4 linked regions of the Homo sapiens genome follow. The protein of the gene in region 1 interacts with the protein of each later gene in a biochemical or structural test. Each region holds a gene or a part of one and is shown on either strand. Other genes may lie near its edges.

Region 1 (4,634 bases):
AACTTCTCCTGTCCCCACATGCGGCTCCCAACAAACAATTTCTCCTGCCCTCACACGCGGTTCCCAACGACAACTTCTGCTCCACAACATGACACCCACGGTGGGAGAAGCTGGGGGCACTTCACTACATCATCCTGCACACTGCAGCATGGCCTGCTCCAGGCAGAAGGCAGGCCTGGAGAAGAGCCTGGGACCACCGCGGACTGACCAACAGCGGACACCAGGTACTTTCTCAAATGGGAGAGGGGCCTCATGGTGGACAACATGTATCTCTTTGTTTTTCGAAAGCTGTACATCTTTGGTGCAAATGTTCATTTGAGATATGTAAAAATCAAAAGTTTTCACTCAAAACTTTCATGGTCCAACCATGGAAATATTAAGCACCCCATTTTCGAACATAACTTGACAGCACTTATTCTACTTCATTATTCCACGCAAGAATTGGAAAGAACAGCTGTGTACGTGTTTGCAGCTGACACCACAATGCCATAGCAACCGCAGGCCCACCTGGAAGCAGAAGCGTCCAGGAAGCCCAGGTGCACAGCACTCGGCACAGAAGGGCCTGCAGCCAAAAGCCCCCTTTATTTAACTGCTTTATTGCTATCAAAGGCCTGATTAAGTAAACGCCCCCATCACGCTGCCTGAGCCGGGCACCACAGGTGAACACCCTAAACAGCAACTGTTTCCTGGATGATCGAGGGCTTGGAGGTTCCTACTGAGCACCATGAAGAAGAAAAGCAAAGCACTTCGGGAACCCTGCAAATTACCCCAAATCTCAGGCAAGCTTCTCCAGAGCCCTGTTACACCTCTGCTTCAAGATCCTCAAACACAGCTGCTAATTATGCTTTGATCAACTCACTTACAACCAACAATTTATAAAAGCTTTCTTCAAATTTATCCCTTAAGTGGAAGAAAACTCACATTATACAGTAGAAAAGGCTTTGGAGGTAGAACAGGAACTGTCTCCATTCCACTCTGATTTCGGGATGCGGACACGCCCACCAGTCTGTTCTGCTGAGCCCGGTCTGTGCTGCTCTGACCAGACGCCGCCTCCCGGCCTCCCTGTGCTGATGTCTAAGGGGCAACTTCCACAGCACACCGGGGAGCCCGGGGGCAGTCCTGGAAGCCAGGGTGGCTCTGCTCTCTGCCCTGGGAGAAGGCCAACTTCCCAGGCGCCCGGGGCCTGCCTCAGGTCCATTTGCCACAGAAGCAAGCGGGACACCCTCTCCTACAAAGCTTCTCACAGGCCCTAAGAACCAGGGCAACCGTAACGAACTTCAAACGTCATCCTCTGTTCAAACTCATAGACCTCTGCTGTGAATGCAGTGCTCGGGCACAGTAAGCAGTGAGGAGAGAGGCTCCTAAGAGCGTCACAGGACCCCGACTCCTGGCTGCCACTAAGCCATGAGGGTCACCAGCTCTGAGACACCAAAGGCAGGTGAGGTCCATCCCAACCTGTCACCAAGATGACTCTGTTCATCCCGAAGGCGATGGTGACGACCCCAGCCGCGGGGCAGGGGGCAGGGAGGAAGGGAAGACCCAGAGCGGCGCCCTTGCCCTATGCTAGGCAGAGCTGTCCAGGGCTGTCTTTACACAGCTCCCCAAAAGTTCTTTTTCTTTGTTCTTTTCAAATGTCACTCCTACCTGAGTATGTCAAAAGAAACACCAGATTAAGGCCTCTAGCCTAAAGTGAGCCCTCCACCCAGGTCCAGGCCTCCAAAGGCCACTGCAACCCTCCCCTATGTTGGCAACCACCGCCCCAGGGTGACCCACCTCAGACCTCGGTAACTTCCCCATTGACAGAACCAGTCAGCTGCCACACCAAACACCTCAGTCACTGAGAAAACATCCAGTCTGGATTAATGTGTGAAAATCAGTGAAAAATGAGGGGAACTGGGAGAGTTTGGAATAGTGAGCGCCACCTGACAGCTATGTTATCTGGCCCAACCTGACAGAATTCACATTCTTCACCAAAAGGGCAACCCCACTTTACAGCTGGGTAAGCCAAGGCTCCGAGGAACAACATATTCCTCCCAGGTCAAACGGCAACAGGGCCCTCAAGTCACAAAATCTAAACTTTTAGGAATGTCCCTTGTGCCAGAGCACTGGCTGCCACCACTGGCCACCAGAACTCACAGCTCCTGCAACCTCAGGGGTGGCCGTCTGCATGCCGCCACCCAGCATGGGCCTGGACTCGCCAAATCCAACCCGTCCCAACAGCGCGATTAAGGGCTAGTGGACATTTTCCCCCTTTCCCCACAGATGGGAACCAATGCTCCAGACAGCACCCACAGACACACATTCACCTGGGAGTACTCATCCTAAAACATGCAGCAAGCACACGCCCCCTAGGCCAAGGGATCAAGGCCCATGGTGAGAAAGTGCTTTTCTGTCCTGGAATGGGAATCTACACTTGGGCCAAATCTTAGAGCAAAAGGAGAGTAAATTCTGCATGAAAGCACAATAGACCAAGATACACTGAAGAAAATGTGAATTTGCCAGGCCAAAAGATAACCTTTAGAAATGAGCTTCTTTACCTTACACCGATCTGAAAAGATCTCTCAACAATTTACCAACATGCTAATGTGGGTGTCAAATCACCTTTTTCTTCTTTCAGCTGTAATCACAACCTGACTATGACGTTATGACTATCCTAAGCTGTACATAACTAGTGCTTTTCCGTGATCTTGGGACAACTGTGTCATCTGCAACAATCTCACTAAAGACTGAGTTTTCTCATTTTTCCTCAGTGAATAAAATCTAAACTCTGGCACCTCAAACCAGCAAATTACAATTACATTAACATAACTGTCTTTACAACACTGTCCTGACAAAGAATATCATGACAGCTACCTAAACCAAATTCAACATACCCGGTGTGCACTATGGGGCTGAAACACTCGGGCCTAAGGCTTAGCCTTAAAGACTTCAGGGTGAAACCTCTGTCCCCTCCCTTCTCCCACCCAAGACCTCCACGGAGGGAAGGCTGGGAAGGGCAGGCCCTTTCACACCCCATCCAATTGCCACCCGTCTGCTACTCCACTTGACACCCACATGCAGCTTTGAGAACCCTGCCCACCCCTAATACTCCCGGCTCCTCCTCAGTTTGCAAGACTGAGTTGTAATGAGAATGAGTTATTAACCAAGCAAGAGTTATTTTTATAAGTTACTTCCATCTTTGTTCTAAACATTTTTATTACGAAATATTTCAATGAAAACGGAACCAACTAGAACAATTTAATATTCTCTGATCAATCGATTACAGGAAGTAACCAGAGTATTTGCAATTTGCCATTCTGATTTACAGAATTAAGTTGTACTGTTCAAAAGAAGGTACTCTGGTTTGGGATACTGGTAGTTTTATTGATACTTTTTTTTTTTGCTTTGGTTATTATTGAAACAAATAACATAATCAAAATTCCTCATCAGTAGATCAACTGCAGGAGGCCATGAAGAGATGGGGTAAATCTCTCACTTTTTTAGATAGTAGCATTCGGCTCCTTGAAAGCACCGCTCTCAGCACTGCCACCCAAACGTCTGTGTGAGCTGTTCCTCTGTCCTCACACACAGGAATCACGCACAGTCAACACTCCTACAGTTGTTTTTCAAGTTGTCTCTTCATCAAACACACCCGACCCTAAAACTGATCTTAAAACAGAAGATGGAAGTGAGTCCCAGGATCACTCATGATAAACACAGCAGAGATGCCCTCTTCCAACCACGTATTCCTTCACCTCCTCCCAGAAGAAAGAGACAGATGAGGCTTTACCTCTGCAGTGGCTCAGAGCAAGAGGACCTGGCCAGCCCCACAAGACAGAGTCCAATACCTACCCAAAGGGGTGCAACAGGCACCTGGCCTGCGCTGAGACACGTGGGACCTCTGGAAAAACATTTTTATAAATAAAGCATTGTGACAGTTTACATAATAGATCACAGCCATCAAACATCTTTTTACAACGTTACTAAAGATCAGCCACGTTTCCTACTAAAAGGTCAACATACACATAACAGCAAAACCAAGCCTCTGGCAAAACACCCCTACAAACGCTTCAGTACCCCAAAAGCTTGTCGTAAAGGGCGTCTCAGCAACCCCGGGAAGTAGCTTCACAGCTCTCTTCCTCCCTGGAGCACTGCAGCCTAGCAGCCGCCCAGACAGGCTTTCCCCACCCCTGCCCTGTCCAGAGTCTGACCACCAGCCCCGAACCTCACATACTTGGACAAGAAATCCTTTCACTTCTGAAGATTCTGCAACCCTGTCAAAGTGACCAATAGCTCCATTCAGAGAGGGGACGCAGGAGGGACCCACGCTCTCCTTGCAGTTCCTACTACTGCTGCCACCGCGCTGCTACAACTGCACGGCACGCGTCACCACAGGCCGGGGAGGAGCTCCCCTGCCCAGCACCCACCACGGCGGCTGGGGAGGGACGGGGAGCCCCAGACAAAAGCAGCAATGCTGGCCAGGCAATCTTTCCTGTCAAACTTGAGGGGCCCTGAGGAGTCGCAGAGACAGCAGACTAGACAGGAGCGTGAGAACTGCCAGGCGGAAGTGGCGTCGGAGCCCCAGGCATCCGCAGCATAGCCAGTATCGCCCCGAGACCCCTGCACGGAGCGAGAACATCTGCTGCCACCGCCCT
Region 2 (4,549 bases), on another chromosome or scaffold:
CTTAAGTCATTTCTCTCCTACTGGGAAACTCCAGAGACACCTGCTATCTCTTTTGTCAAATTCTTCAGCCTGGCTCATTGTTCTCATTTGTGATGTTATTTATAAAGGAATATACAGATGCAATAAATTATCTGTGATTTCCCTACACCTCTTCCTGATTCCCACAGTCTCTGAGCATTACCTGTTTTTCTTGTGAACTCTTACCTGCTTTTTTTGAGATGGAGTTTCACTCTTGTTGCCCAGGCTGGAGTGCAACGGCACGATCTTAGCTTACTGCAACCTCTGCCTCCCAGGTTCAAGTGATTCTCCTGCCTCAGCCTCCTGAGTAGCTGGGATTACAGGCGCCCGCCACCAACACCTGGCTAATTTTTGTATTTTTAGTAGAGACGGGGTTTCTCCATGTTGGCCAGGCTGGTCTCAAACTCCTGACCTCAGGTGATCAACCCGCCTCAGCCTCCCAAAGTGCTGGGATTACAGGCATGAGCCACCATGCCCGGTTTTCTTACCTGCTTCTAAGTAAACTCTACCCCTCATTTCCAGACCAGCCTCCTCCTTACCATAGAAAGCTATACTTTCCGTCTTTGTCTGTGTGTGTGCTCCCTGGTCACAACAGCCACTTTTTAATGGTTGGGTGGGGGTTGGCAACAAAACACTGAAAAGTAAAAGGCCATTTGCCATCAGCAACTCTCCCACCCGCCATCCACATAAAGCACATACTAAGTTTCCTGTGAGTACTTGCTGCCAGGATGCCAAGGGCCCTTGTCTCCAAGGCAGTCCACAGGAGCTCTGCCCTGGGCCTTCTGTCATACTTTGTAATTTATAGAAATCATCCACTTTCTCTAGGCTGTATCTCCCATGTATAAAAACTAGAGACAAAAATCCCTGTTCCTTCTGTCCTAAGAAATGGGGGAGTGATGAAGATGACAGACATGAAAGGCCAGTGACCTCCCAGAAAAGGGGACAATGGGGGCTGTGGATAGAGGAGTGAAGCATCAGACATAACAGTGGTTCACTTGATAGTTTAATGTTATATTTGCAGCATAAATAAGGCACAATATATGCCAGGGCAAGGGAGGGAGGGAGAAGGCATAGCTGGGGGGATAACTGCTAAGTGGCAAGGGGGAAAGGAAGACAGTATGGTTAGGGAGAATAGAGCGAAGCCCCTGCCTCAGCCCAGTCCCAGGAGATTGTGAGAACCAGCTCACAGGGATCATGCTGAATCAGGTGGAGGGGAAAAGGGAAAAGACAGTTTTGTAACAAAAAACAAAATAGCCTGCAGCACTGCATCCTCCTACCTGTCAAAGGCCACCACTGGGCACTGGGGAGACCCAGACCGAGTTGAGTTCCTTGATAAGATGGAGAGGTGTTGCTACATGTCAAAAATATATAGATGAACAGAGATATAATCATAGATACACACTGCTTCCTTTTCAATAGATACTATGTTAGGATGTGGCAGCCTCCACTCTTGGGGCTGGAAGCTCATCTCCTCCCTGCCTGAAAGGTGTGTGTGTTGTAGGGGGAGGAATGGGACAGCTGAAGCTTGGCTGGTCCTTACTGTAACAGAGAACATGGAGTGACCAGTCTGCAAGGGAATATGGGACAACTCCTGTCCAGACCAATGCATGGTTTTAGGGATACGACTAAAATGAAGACAAATCTAGCTTTTGAGATCAGTGATATGATGGGGAAGACTTTAAAGGGAATGGAGGAAGAGACTGAAAGAAATGAAAGCATGTTAGTGCAAAGGCAAAAGATGTATTTGAAATATCCTCCACACCTGTAAAAATTTCCCAGCTTATCCCTAAGAAATGGTTCTCAACCTTTAGTGTGCATTAGAATCACTTGGAGTGCTTTTAAACCCTGCCCCCAGAGTCTGTGATTCAATAAGTCTGGGATGGGGCCTGAGAATGTGTATTTCTAACAAGTTCCCAGATTACTGTGGCACTGCCCTAAGGTAAAGTCAGTGAAACTATTGCTCATAGCCACTTCTTACAGCTAAAACATCACTCACCAGTAGCTACTGCTGGTGAGATAACTCTGTGCTATTAGCCCCCCATTAAAAAAATAAACCCTAGTAGCTATGATACAAACCTACATCTACAGAGGACATAAGCTCCTTTAACCTGCCCTACTCTCCCCAGCCTTTTCTCATTCTGGGGTAGGACTTTACCCCAAAGAGAGACAACACAGCTGATGCAGACGGTGGTAATGGTGGCCAGCAGCCACCTACGCTCATTCCTGCTAGGTAACCACCTTGGTATGGGGTGGGGGAATTTATGTCTGTATGCACATTTGTGTGTACAAACAGACACAGAGAAATCAGTCCTGTACTATGAGAGGGATGACTAGAGTTATGGGAGGCTGTAGTGGGGTGGAGGGAGTCCTTTAATCTGCCTTAGGATCCCCACCTTTCCTGTTCTTCCAGACACCCCCACCCCCGTCAAACATTAAGTCTAAAGAAAGCAGAAAGAGCATATCAACAAGGCATATGTGATATAGCTAGGAAGACTGGAATCTAAACAGGCTGGTTATGAAATTTAAAAAAAATAATGTATTTCCTTCCTGTGTATATAATGTACAATATTAATGAAAAATTAATGATTTGGGGATGGGAAGGAAGTTATGAAAAAAGGAGAAAACTGGCGGGGATAGCTGTATCAGGGGCTAGCACCTTTAAGGAGCCTCTCAGTGTGGAGCAGGGGAGCCCCAGAAACCACAGGAAGAATTTTTTTGGTGTCTGTTTGGTGGTTCAGGCTGTACATAGGGCACGGTTGGGGTTAAGCACTCCATCTACCAGGATGGGTGGTGCTAGAGGGCAGTGAATCAAGAAAGGAGCCAAAACCAACAGAACAGGGATAGAGAAGTGAGCGAGAGGAGGTTCAGTTTGCTCAGTCCCTCTTTAACCACTACTTAGAGTACATGGTCTAATGCTTAGGGCCAAGGAGGGAGGTGAAGGCTAAGGAAGTCAGATTTGAGATGCATAACCAGCAGCAAAAGAGTAAGTAAAGGGGGCATGACTTTTTTTTTGTTGGCCTCTCTAGTATTGTGGGAGGCTTTCTTAGACTTTTCAACTCTAAGCAAACTTTCTGTTAGGGGAATGGGGCAGAAAGTGAGCAGACCAGAAGACCTGGTTCTGTCCCCTCCCTCTGTGGCCTTGGGTACGTGGCAGCTAGCTAGAGTGCTTGTGTATCGAGCACTCACATTGGAGTGGGGTGGGAAGCCTGAGTCCTGTATTCACATGAACGAATTCAGGACACCCACCATACACTCAGCTCCTTTCTGAAAGTGTCCTCCCTTAGGCCTCTAGAAACGCCATGGACTTTAGGAAGGGCCAAGTGACACCTTCCATGATGTTTGGTTCTGGTCCAGATGGATCTGGAAGACAAAGATTTGGGGAGAGTGACCACATGGCTGGTAGCAATAACAAGGTAAGTGAAGTTACCTTTGACTATCAGAGAAGTTTCAGGGCAGCAATTATTCTGCCTCCTTAGTGAGACTGAGAACCAACTCAAGAACTATCTAGGGGGTTCTGACCTGCTGCTTCCTTATTTCAGTGCCATTTTGTTACTGTGGTTCTGGCAGTGCTCCTCACTGAGGTCCCGTACACATCTTCCCACTGATAAAAATGAAGTTAGGACTAGATAATTAGTCATGGGGGCTAAGAAATAAAAAAGACCCGCTACATAAATTAGCCACCCAACACAGGGACAGACTGGCAGGGCATGTATGCAGTTACAAATTAATTCTTAACTGTAAAAACACTTGACTGAAGGGGGAAGAAAAATAGTCAAGAGTCTTAGGAAAGCTCCTTAGGAGCCATAAACTCAGTCAAGCTTTAGGGCAAGGCTGCTACTGGGAAATCAAGACAATAAAAAAATGAAACAAAACTCTAAAGCAGGAGAAAATCCCAGGGAGCAGCCAGCTAAAGGGGAAGTCCTGAGCACAAGTTACGGCTGTGAATTTTTAAAGGCAAAAGTGAAGTCCCTGGATGTGGTAACCTGCGTCCTGACCATCTGCCATAACATTTGCTAGTCTGAATCACTTCAGGGCCTATTCCTGTTGGGTACCTGATGGTAGAGGATGAGAAAACCGTGTTTTCTCTCCTTTGTCTTTAGGGGTGTGGCCTGTTCAGCACCAGCTCTGAAAAGCAGGAGGGGAAATTTAAAACAAATGCAGCAGAACCTGTTACCTGACTGGTTCACTAGGACAGGATATCACTTTAAGGAAACGGGAATCTTGTAGCTTAGAACATTTTCTCATTCCCCTGTGACAGTCAATTTTGGAGACAAAATAAGAAAGGAAGCTGGCAGTTATTTTGTATGTATGTTTAAGATGGAGGTAGGAAAGATGGAGAGAAGGACATTCTTGGCTTGCACAGATGGCAGAAAGTGGCTCTGGGACAACTGGAAGGGTTTCATACGGAAAGGCAATTAAAGCTGACCTATCTATCCACAGGCCTCTGGCTCTGAATTGCTTCCTATGGTCCTGGTAGAAACTGCATAGTTCAGAGCCAAGGGGAGATGAGAAGCCTTAACGTGGAAGAGGG
Region 3 (4,634 bases), on another chromosome or scaffold:
CCCAAACTACAGAACATGTATTCTTCATAGGATTACATGGGATATTTTACCAACATAGACCATGTATTAGATCATAAAATAAGTCACCACAAATTTCAAAAAAACTGAAATCCATCCAGAGAATATTTTCTGACTACAATGGAATTAAGCTAAAAGTCAATCATAAAAAGGCAACTAGAAAAATCCCCAAACACCAAAAAGTACAGTAACACTGTATTTCTAAATAATTCATGAATAAAAATAAAAACAAATTAGCCAGTATTTTCAATTAAATAATAAAAATAAGATAGCAAAAGATGAGGGTTGTAATGCTGTACTTAAAGGGAAACTGATATATATGTTTAAGTATATATTTTTTAAAAGTTGCAAAAAATGATAAATTATACCCAAAGAAAGTAGAAGGAAGAAAATAATAATGAGCAGACATAATTAAAATTGAAAACAAATGTATAAAATAGAAAAAAATCAATAAACCAAAAGTTGGATCCTAATAAAGACTAATAAAATCTAATTAAAAAAAGTGCCTTCTAGAAACATTGATCAAGGGAGAAGTGACAAATTTGTAGAGGTACACACATACCCATGCACTCATATACATATGGTACACACATACTCATGTACTTCCATGGGTACTTATACACATACATACATTCATCATGTTCATGGGCTCAAAGATTCAGTATTAAAAAGATGTTAATTCTCCCCAAATGATCTACAGTTTCAAGGTAATTGCACTCAAAATCTCAACAGATTTTCAGACAACTGCTTTCTAAAATGTATATGGAATTATAGAGGGCAAAGAAGAACCAAGGCAATCTTGAAGGAGAACAAAAAAGGCAAAACAAACAAAATGACACACTCTGACATAGAAATATATAATAAAGATAGAATAACTAAGACAGTGTAATGCTAGACAAAATAGACAACTGCACTAATGGAGCTATTAATAGAACAACACAATCCAGACAGAGAACCACAGACAAAATCCCCTGATCAAAATACAGCGCAGCCGGGAAACAATGACCTTCTCGGTAAATCATCTTTTCAATGTTACTGGTCAATTGGGTATACGTATAATGGCTGGGGGGAATCAATCCTTACCTCAAGCTACAGACAAAAATCAATTCTCCAGAGTGGGAGGAAACATTTGCAATACAAATATTTGATAAAGGACTCATCTGCAGCATGTGTAAGAAACTCTTAAAATCACTGCTGGGTTTAGAGAATATATTCTAAATAAAGCATTGTTATATTTTTCTTCTTTTTTACCAATGACACTAGCTTTTCATGTGTCTTTCATATGCCCAAGATAAAACCCTAGAGTTTTATTATTCTTTCTATAGCTCTGCACATGTAGCTCTCAATCAAGTTCGTCAATTCTATCTTCTCAATGTCTCTCACCTGTGCTCTTCTTTCTAGATGAATTAAACTTTTCAATTTTTATTTACAGACTAAAGTCTGCTTGAATTATTTTTATGCTTTCACATAAGAGGACTTATGAAAACAAAACTGTTAAAACAGGAAACATTATTTGTGCTTACGTTAGTGGTCTCTGAGTTACAATGATATAATCTGGTCTTCCATTTTTATAAAGCAGGCGTGCATTAGACTGGACCCAAGTCCATCGGTTGTTTTTTGTAAGAAGCCGGAAAACTATCATGCCACTTTCTCCAGTCTTAATCACTAAAATAAAATTAAAAAATTAAATTATCAAACCCCCAAATCAATATAGTAAAGATTATTCCTAAAACAAAGCTCTTGTGACATAGTTCTGGATGTATTTCCTTTATCCCCAAAGACAATAAATTTTAAACAAAAAATAATAAAAGGCATGGAAATAGTTTTTCAGAGTTGTTTTAAATTTATTATTTTAAATGTTAAAGGGAAGATTATGTACCAAACAATTCTAGTAACACAGGAAAGTATAGAGAGAACATAAGTTGGGGAAAAAATTATTTTCATTTTAAATAGGGAATATTTTCCTACAGCCTAATACTTTATAATTTTAAACTAGAATTATTAACACTATTATTGTTACAATATTAACATAGATTTATGAATTGATAACGATGTAATTAAAAAATTCCCAAGCAAAACTTCATGGGCCAAAATGGTCATTTTTTAATAACTAAACAACAATATTTCTACATGGCAGGTGTAGACAAGTTAATGAACAAAGAGTGTAACCCTGGTTAATCATAATGATATGTTACTAAGTAGAAGTTTATCCATATACTTTACTTAAACACTTTACATTACGTAAGAATTTGAAACATGTACAACAGTATATGCCGTTTTCTTCTGACATGTTCATAAGGAACTACAACTTACTTCGGATATGGGACTCGGCACAATAAAGCATATCAGCTGCATGAATAAACTGATAACCTGAGCCTCTCGTGCACAGCTCTGCTTCAGTATATCCTAAAACAATTCTTCCTCTGTTTAAAATAAAAAAAGGTAAAATAAGAATGGATTAAGATTTAACATAAATGAAATAACCAAGATAAATTCATTGGTTTTACGCTAGTTTCTGCAATATGTTTTAGTTCACATTTAGAATTTCACATAAGTAGATGTGAAATTAAACACATCCATGTAAACTGATCTTCTTTGCTTATGATTGCAAATTTCAGTTTCAGCCTATTTTCTTTTCCTGAATAAATCCATGGAAATTAGTATGCTAAAAATGAATCTAATAGAGCAGATGTATGGGTAACAGAACATCTTTAATAAAAATCTGGAATGTTTTTATAATCTATTTTTAGGGAAGAAGGTTTTTCTAATTACCTCTCTGCATTCCCACATTAGAAAGGAGAAAAGCACTGATATGTTTGATATGATATAAATGTTTAATATCAGACTCCTGCTCACAATTTTCTGAAAGTTACTAAAACTTCTGGGGCTAGAAATCAAATAACATTTGTGCCATTTAAAAATGTAAAACAAACCAACATAAATGTCATCAGAAGAATAAACCTTACTAATATATAAGAACATCATCATTTGAGACAAGTATTGCAAAAATTAAAAAGATGATTTGTGAGCCTGATTAAATTATTTTACTGTAAAAGGCTACACTGGAAGAATGTACGATAATAGCCAATCTAATAATAAACAATATTACATACACTGTATGTTTTACATGCTAAGAGAGACTTACTGAAACATAATGTACATCCAATAAAATAAAAGTGAAAAAGTCTCACTTACTTGGCATCACAACCAATAGGTGTGAAGTCTAGTTTGTGTTTGGTTCTAAAGATAAAATTTTTGGTCCGGATTTCAAGTATGGATGGTGGCTGAAGTGGAGTAGCTATCGCAAACAAAGCCAACTGAGGTGGAAGTATTGATCCATCTTTCCCTTTCTTTTTCTGTCCATGAAGATACTTTAACTTCCCTTGGAAATTCATTGCCTTAAAAAAGCAACAACAACAAAAAAGTTCATTAAAATTAACAATATAAAATAGTGCCTTTTTAAAAGGCTCCATTATGGCTGCCTCTAGGGTTCTTGATAATTCCATAAATATTCCTGAAGCTGAGAACTGTTAGTTTCCTTCACTCCTCTCTCCATGGGACGCCCATTAAATCTATCTCAAAGAGTAATATGAAAAATATTCTAAAGGGATAAGTGAACCACTCCTTGTTCCTAATGGTCATAACATGAAAACCTATATCATTTTCCAAGCTTGCCATTACCCTATCATTTTCACCTCACACAGCTCCTTGCACACCAGGCAATCAATATATCCTGAATGGTGATAAAGTCCTAAAGTAAACATTCATTTTCAAGCATACATGAACTATATCACAGCTCATAGCATACTGCATAGTTCATAATCTTTTCTATAGAGGCAAAATATAATTTTATTAAGACACTAAAATGAATCATCATGAAAACATATAAAGAATGCAGAGCCCTACTGAGTAAAGATATGGAAGAAATTTAGAAGACAGGGAAAACAAAGGCACTTAAACATGAACATGATATATTTAATTGCTTAAAACAATATCAACCAGTCCAAGGGATGGTTCTGACATCAAAATAATAGCAGCACAAGGAGGAAAAGGCCCTCCTGCACACAGATATTCCACCTCAGACATACACTCACATGTCATTTAACAAAAGGGGCATGTTCTGTGAAATGTGTCCTTAGGCAATTTCATTATCCTGTGAACATCAGAGGGTAGGTTCACAAACCTAGATGGTATAGCTTACTACGCATCTAAGCTATACAGTATAGCCTTTTGTTCCTAGGCTACAAACCTGTACAGCATGCTATCGTACTGAATACTTAAAGCAATTGTAACATGATGGTAAGTATTTGTGTATCTAAACATAGAAAATATACAGTAAAAATACAGTATAAAAGACAAAAAATGGTATACCTGTATAAGAGCACTTATTGTAAACAAGGTAGGCAGGACTGAAAGTTGCTTTGGTTTAGTCAGTGAGTGAGTGGTGAGTGAATGTGAAGGCCTGAGACATTACCGTACACTACTATAGAGTTTATAAACACTATACACTTAGGCTACGCTGAATTTATAAAAAATATTTTCCTTTTGGCCAGGTGCAGTGGCTTATGCCTGTAATCCCAGCACAGTTTACTGTAACATTTTTACTTCATAAACTT
Region 4 (4,634 bases), on another chromosome or scaffold:
TCCAACTTGGGTTTTTGTTAAAAAATTAAACTCCAAACAAAATAAGTTTATTCAAAACGTCCTTCTGATAGCCTTCAATCCATTAAAAAACCTAGTTTAGACACTGTAGCAATTAAACTCTCTTTATTTTTTACTAATATCTTTAAAAATATATATTTGACATGTGGAAAGAAGTAAAACTGGCAAAGAAAAAGACAAAAGAACATTTGAGCCAGACATGGTGGCTCACACCTGTAATCCCAGCACTGCGGGAGGCTGAGGTAGCAGGTTTGCTTGAATCCAGGAGTTTGAGACAAGCCTTGGCAACACAGTGAGACCTTGTCTCTACAAGAAAACTGACCAGGTATGGTGGCACAGGCCTGGACTCCCAGCTACTCAGGAGGCTGAGGTGGGAGAATCACTTGAGCGCGGAAAGTTGAGGCTGCAATGGGCCATGTTTGCACCTCTGTACTCCAGCCTAGGTGACAGAGCAAGACCATTCACAGACCTAAACTCTTTTGAGACAGAGTCCCAAAAAAAAAAAAAAAAAAAACTGAGAGTCCTTAATTTCTTTTAGAGCTGGAGAAAACAATCGTGCTCATCCCTAAGTAACCTCTAGATACCTCTGCCAGCAACAGCAGTGCTTAGACAGACACATTGCTTTCAGAGTTCCCTCCTAAGGGTTCTTCTAAATGATGTCATATAATCCTGGTCAAATTTGGAACTGTAGGCAGCAGGCAGGTTTATCAAACCTCACTAAGGGCACTAAGGCGATGGTTACTACTGCTACCATGTGCCCCCAGCATAGGGACAAGAGACAGTAGGGCATTTGAACAGGCTCCTCACAAGAGGAACAAAAAGCAGAACTGATGCCATTCTGACATCAAACCTCATTGTATGCTACACTAGCATTTTACGTAGGGACATCTTATGCTCCTTAACAACTGTATAACCCATTAGATGCCACCCCCTCATACTAGACACTGGGGCACTGCAGGAGACAGCTCTCCAGGAGCCTGCAATCTAAAGGCGGGGGCAGATATGTCAACAAAATAATAATAGCACTTGAACAATAATGATAATCACAGCACTATATCATAGAAAAAAGGCCAATTTCTGTATTTCACTTGGAAATGTTTTATTTGCTGAATAAGTAATACATTCTTGTGGTTCAAAACTTTAAAACTAGAAAAAGGTATTCAGAGAAGTCCAGGAACAGCCGCCCGCTTCCTCTTCCTAGAGGTAACTAGCACTGAAGAAAGCACCAACTTCCGGCCATGGGAGCCACAAGATACCAAAGAGAAAAACTAGCCTCATACCCGAATAATGACAAGATAAACTTGACCCTGACTCAGGATGATCAGAGACTTACTTCATTCCAACTATTCTCCACAAGGTCACCAATGAACGCTTGCCTGCTTGCCAAATCTAAAAGGATGCTTTCTAGTCCCCATCTTCCTCAATACCCCTACAGCATTTCCCCCTCTATTTGAAACTTTGTCCTCTTTGAATTCTTTATGACATTACTTTCATGCTTTTCTTCCAAATTATCTAGCCTTTTGTTCTATCTTCTTTGTCTCATTTTTTTTTAATGTCTCTCTTTTTTTTTTTTTTTTTTTTTTCCAGAAATAGGTATCACTATGTTGCCCAGGTCTCAAATTCCTAGCTTCAAGCAATCCTCCCACCATAGCCTCCCAAAGTGTTGGGATTACAGGCATGAGCCACTGTACTCAGCTCTCCAGTTATAATTTCTAAGCAGATCTCCTTATACCTAAACACCCAAAGGATACTGATATATCCTGTATACTACCAATCTACCAACTTTCTTTTTTCGGGGGGTGGTGGGCATTCTGGCAAAAACCGGAGAGCCTGCTAGACAAATTCTAAGAGCTGTAACACTTATATACTACCGATTTTCTACAGGAATAATTTTCTACAGGAATAAATTAAAACACATAATAAATTAAAACACTTATATACTACCAATTTTCTACAGGAATAATTTAAAAGTCCCATCTGCCAAGGGACTCTTAAGCTTTAGCTTTTAGAGCAGAAAGGCATATTTTAGATTAGTTTGTTATAGGCAAGTAATAACTTATAAGAAGAAATGAGACCCAAAATTATTTTGCCTGGTTATGGATTTCTCTGCCATATTTTGAAGGCCATCTAACACACTGATAAAAACTTTATTAGGTATGATTACAAAAACAACAGTTGGCATTCACCTTACTTTCACCAGTATGTTGCTCCATTCACCCTGTGGTGCAACAGCTTCAATTAATTTTTCTTTCCTTTTTTTTTTTTTTGAGACTGAGTCTTGCTCTGTCGCCCAGGCTGGAGTGCAGTGGCACCATCTCAGCTCACTGCAAAATCCACGTCCCAGGTTCAAGCAGTTCTCATGCCTCAGCCTCCTGAGTAGCTGGGATTACAGGCGCATGCCACCATGCTCGGCTAATTTTTGTATTTTTAGTAGAGATGGTGTTTCACCATTTTGGCCAGGCTGGTCTCGAACCCCTGACTTCAAGTGATCCGCCTGCCTCGGCCTCCCAAAGTGCTGGGATTACAGGCTTGAGCCATCATGCCAGGCTCAATTTCACTGCTGTCGGTATCCTTCAATATATAGCTTTCTATACAAATGATATTTAAAATATGTTGATTATGCTATAAAGGACATTTTGGGAACAAATGGTGAAATCTGAATATGGGATTATATATTACAGAGAGGGTAATAAAGCAAATGTTGGAAAATGCTCATATAATATAAGCAAACAAATACAATATGCTGATAGAGAAAAGATAGTATTAAATTAACACTTAAAAATGTTGAGGCCAGGCGCTGTGGCTCACCCCTGTAATCCCAGCACTCTGGAAGGCTGAGGCGGGCAGATCGCCTGAGGTCAAGAGTTCAAGACCAGTCTGGCCAACATGGCGAAACCCTGTCTCTACTAAAAATACAAAAAGTAGCCAGGCGTGGTGGCATGCGCCTGTAATCCCAGCTCCTTGGGAGGGTGAGGCAGGAGAACTGCTTGAACCCAAGAGGCAGAGGTTGCAGTGAGCCAAGATCGCGCCCCTGCACTCCAGCCTGGGCAACAGAGCGAGACTCTCATTTAAAAAAGAAAAAATTACAAAAATGAGCCAGCATGGTGATGTGCACCTATAATCCCAGCTACTCTGGAGGCTGAGGCAAGAGAATCACTTGAACTCAGGAGGCGGAAATTGCAGTGAGCCGAGATAGCACCATTGCACTCCAGCCAGGGCAACAGAGCTGTCTTGAAAAAAAAAAAAAAACAAAAAACTTTTACCTGCTGTGGTTAAATTAATACCTTAATGTAACTTTTCTGGAAAAACTAGGTATATATAAGAATTAAACTTCTTGGGCAAGTTTACTAGAATACCAAAGTTTACTTAACCAATTTCCAGCTCTCCATATTAACAGTGTTCTCCACTCCTGTGAAGCCTACAGTATAGCTAATGCCCACCACAGTTCTCTAGTGTGCCCAGGCACTTATGTTCACTCCAACAGGGAGGGGTGCTTACCAAGAGTTAGTTGTGTTTGTCACCAAACCTGATTGTGCCAGCCACACTTGTTGCAATTTTGTAATTTTGTTAAACTGTACATTAGATGAAATGACTAAGTAGATTAAATGATTCAAAAAGAGAACTGTTTCTCTGAAGACTAAGTTGAATGCTTTGGAAAGACAATAAACACAGTTTTGCTTTTTCTGCTTTAAAACAAACTGCTTTTGGACAGGCGCCATGGCTCACGCCTGTAATCCCAGCATTTTCGGAGGCCAAGTTGAGTGGATTACATGAGGTCAGGAGTTCGAGACCAGCCTGGCCAACATGGTAAAACCCTATCTCTGCAAAAAATACAGAAATTAGCCAGGCACGGTGGCAGGCACCTGTAATCCCAGCTACTTGGGAGGCTGAGGCAGGAGAATCTGGGAGGCGAAGGCTGCAGTGAGCCGAGATTGCTCCATTGCACTCCAACCTGGGTGACACAGTGAGACTCTGTCTCAAAAAAAAAAAAAAAAATCTGCTTTTGGACTAGATATTACAATTGGAGATAACTATGACTTACGGGAAATATTAAATTAAGAATTCTTTATAAGACACTTGCCAAACAATCTAAGTTCTTACTCCACTTTCAAAAACCCAAAAATGTAAACTGTAAATTATGCATTATTGAGATGGTTTCTAAAAGAAAGGCTAAAAAAGAAAAAGAATAAGAAAACCTGAAAGCACTGCAACTAGCATACTCAAAAGAAAAAGAAAAGAATGTGGAACAAAAGGTATCATACCTTTTACAGAAGCAGGAAGAGAAAGAGAACAGAGAAATACAATCTGTTTATTTGGTTCTGTGATGAAGCAAGGTTTTAGTTCTTTGCAAAAGTAGATATCCATAGGTTAACTGTAATTTAAGTAGCAAGAGCAATAAAGTTTGAAAGATAAAGGAGAATATGAAGCTCATATTGTAAAGTTGGTCCTTCTCAACCAAGTCGATTAAAAAATTAAGAGAAGGTGGGACTAGTTATAAGAGAAATAATTCCAAACAGCCATATAGCTGCAATTGACGGGGATGAGACTATGGTTATGCATTTTAGGGGAAGATGAGTACAGGAAAAACAATGGGAGAAAGCAGTACCATGAAATTA

The links.
Region 2: the proteins of TAF4 (region 1) and ATF7 form a complex in vitro, tested with the Homo sapiens proteins (one study listed by BioGRID).
Region 3: the proteins of TAF4 (region 1) and AHR form a complex in vitro, tested with the Homo sapiens proteins (one study listed by BioGRID).
Region 4: the proteins of TAF4 (region 1) and CREM form a complex in vitro, tested with the Homo sapiens proteins (one study listed by BioGRID).

What each region holds. Positions count from the first base shown.
Region 1 is NC_000020.11:62,059,032-62,063,665, forward strand, and holds part of TAF4 (transcription initiation factor TFIID subunit 4), read right to left. Parts: intron 1-4,634. UniProt on the Homo sapiens protein: The TFIID basal transcription factor complex plays a major role in the initiation of RNA polymerase II (Pol II)-dependent transcription.
Region 2 is NC_000012.12:53,511,051-53,515,599, forward strand, and holds the end of ATF7 (cyclic AMP-dependent transcription factor ATF-7), read right to left. Parts: 3' UTR 1,004-4,549; downstream 1-1,003. UniProt on the Homo sapiens protein: Stress-responsive chromatin regulator that plays a role in various biological processes including innate immunological memory, adipocyte differentiation or telomerase regulation.
Region 3 is NC_000007.14:17,332,694-17,337,327, reverse strand, and holds part of AHR (aryl hydrocarbon receptor), read right to left. Parts: intron 3,417-4,634; coding exon 3,214-3,416; intron 2,442-3,213; coding exon 2,332-2,441; intron 1,684-2,331; coding exon 1,542-1,683; intron 1-1,541. UniProt on the Homo sapiens protein: Ligand-activated transcription factor that enables cells to adapt to changing conditions by sensing compounds from the environment, diet, microbiome and cellular metabolism, and which plays important roles in development, immunity and cancer.
Region 4 is NC_000010.11:35,132,689-35,137,322, reverse strand, and holds part of CREM (cAMP-responsive element modulator), read right to left. Parts: intron 1-4,634.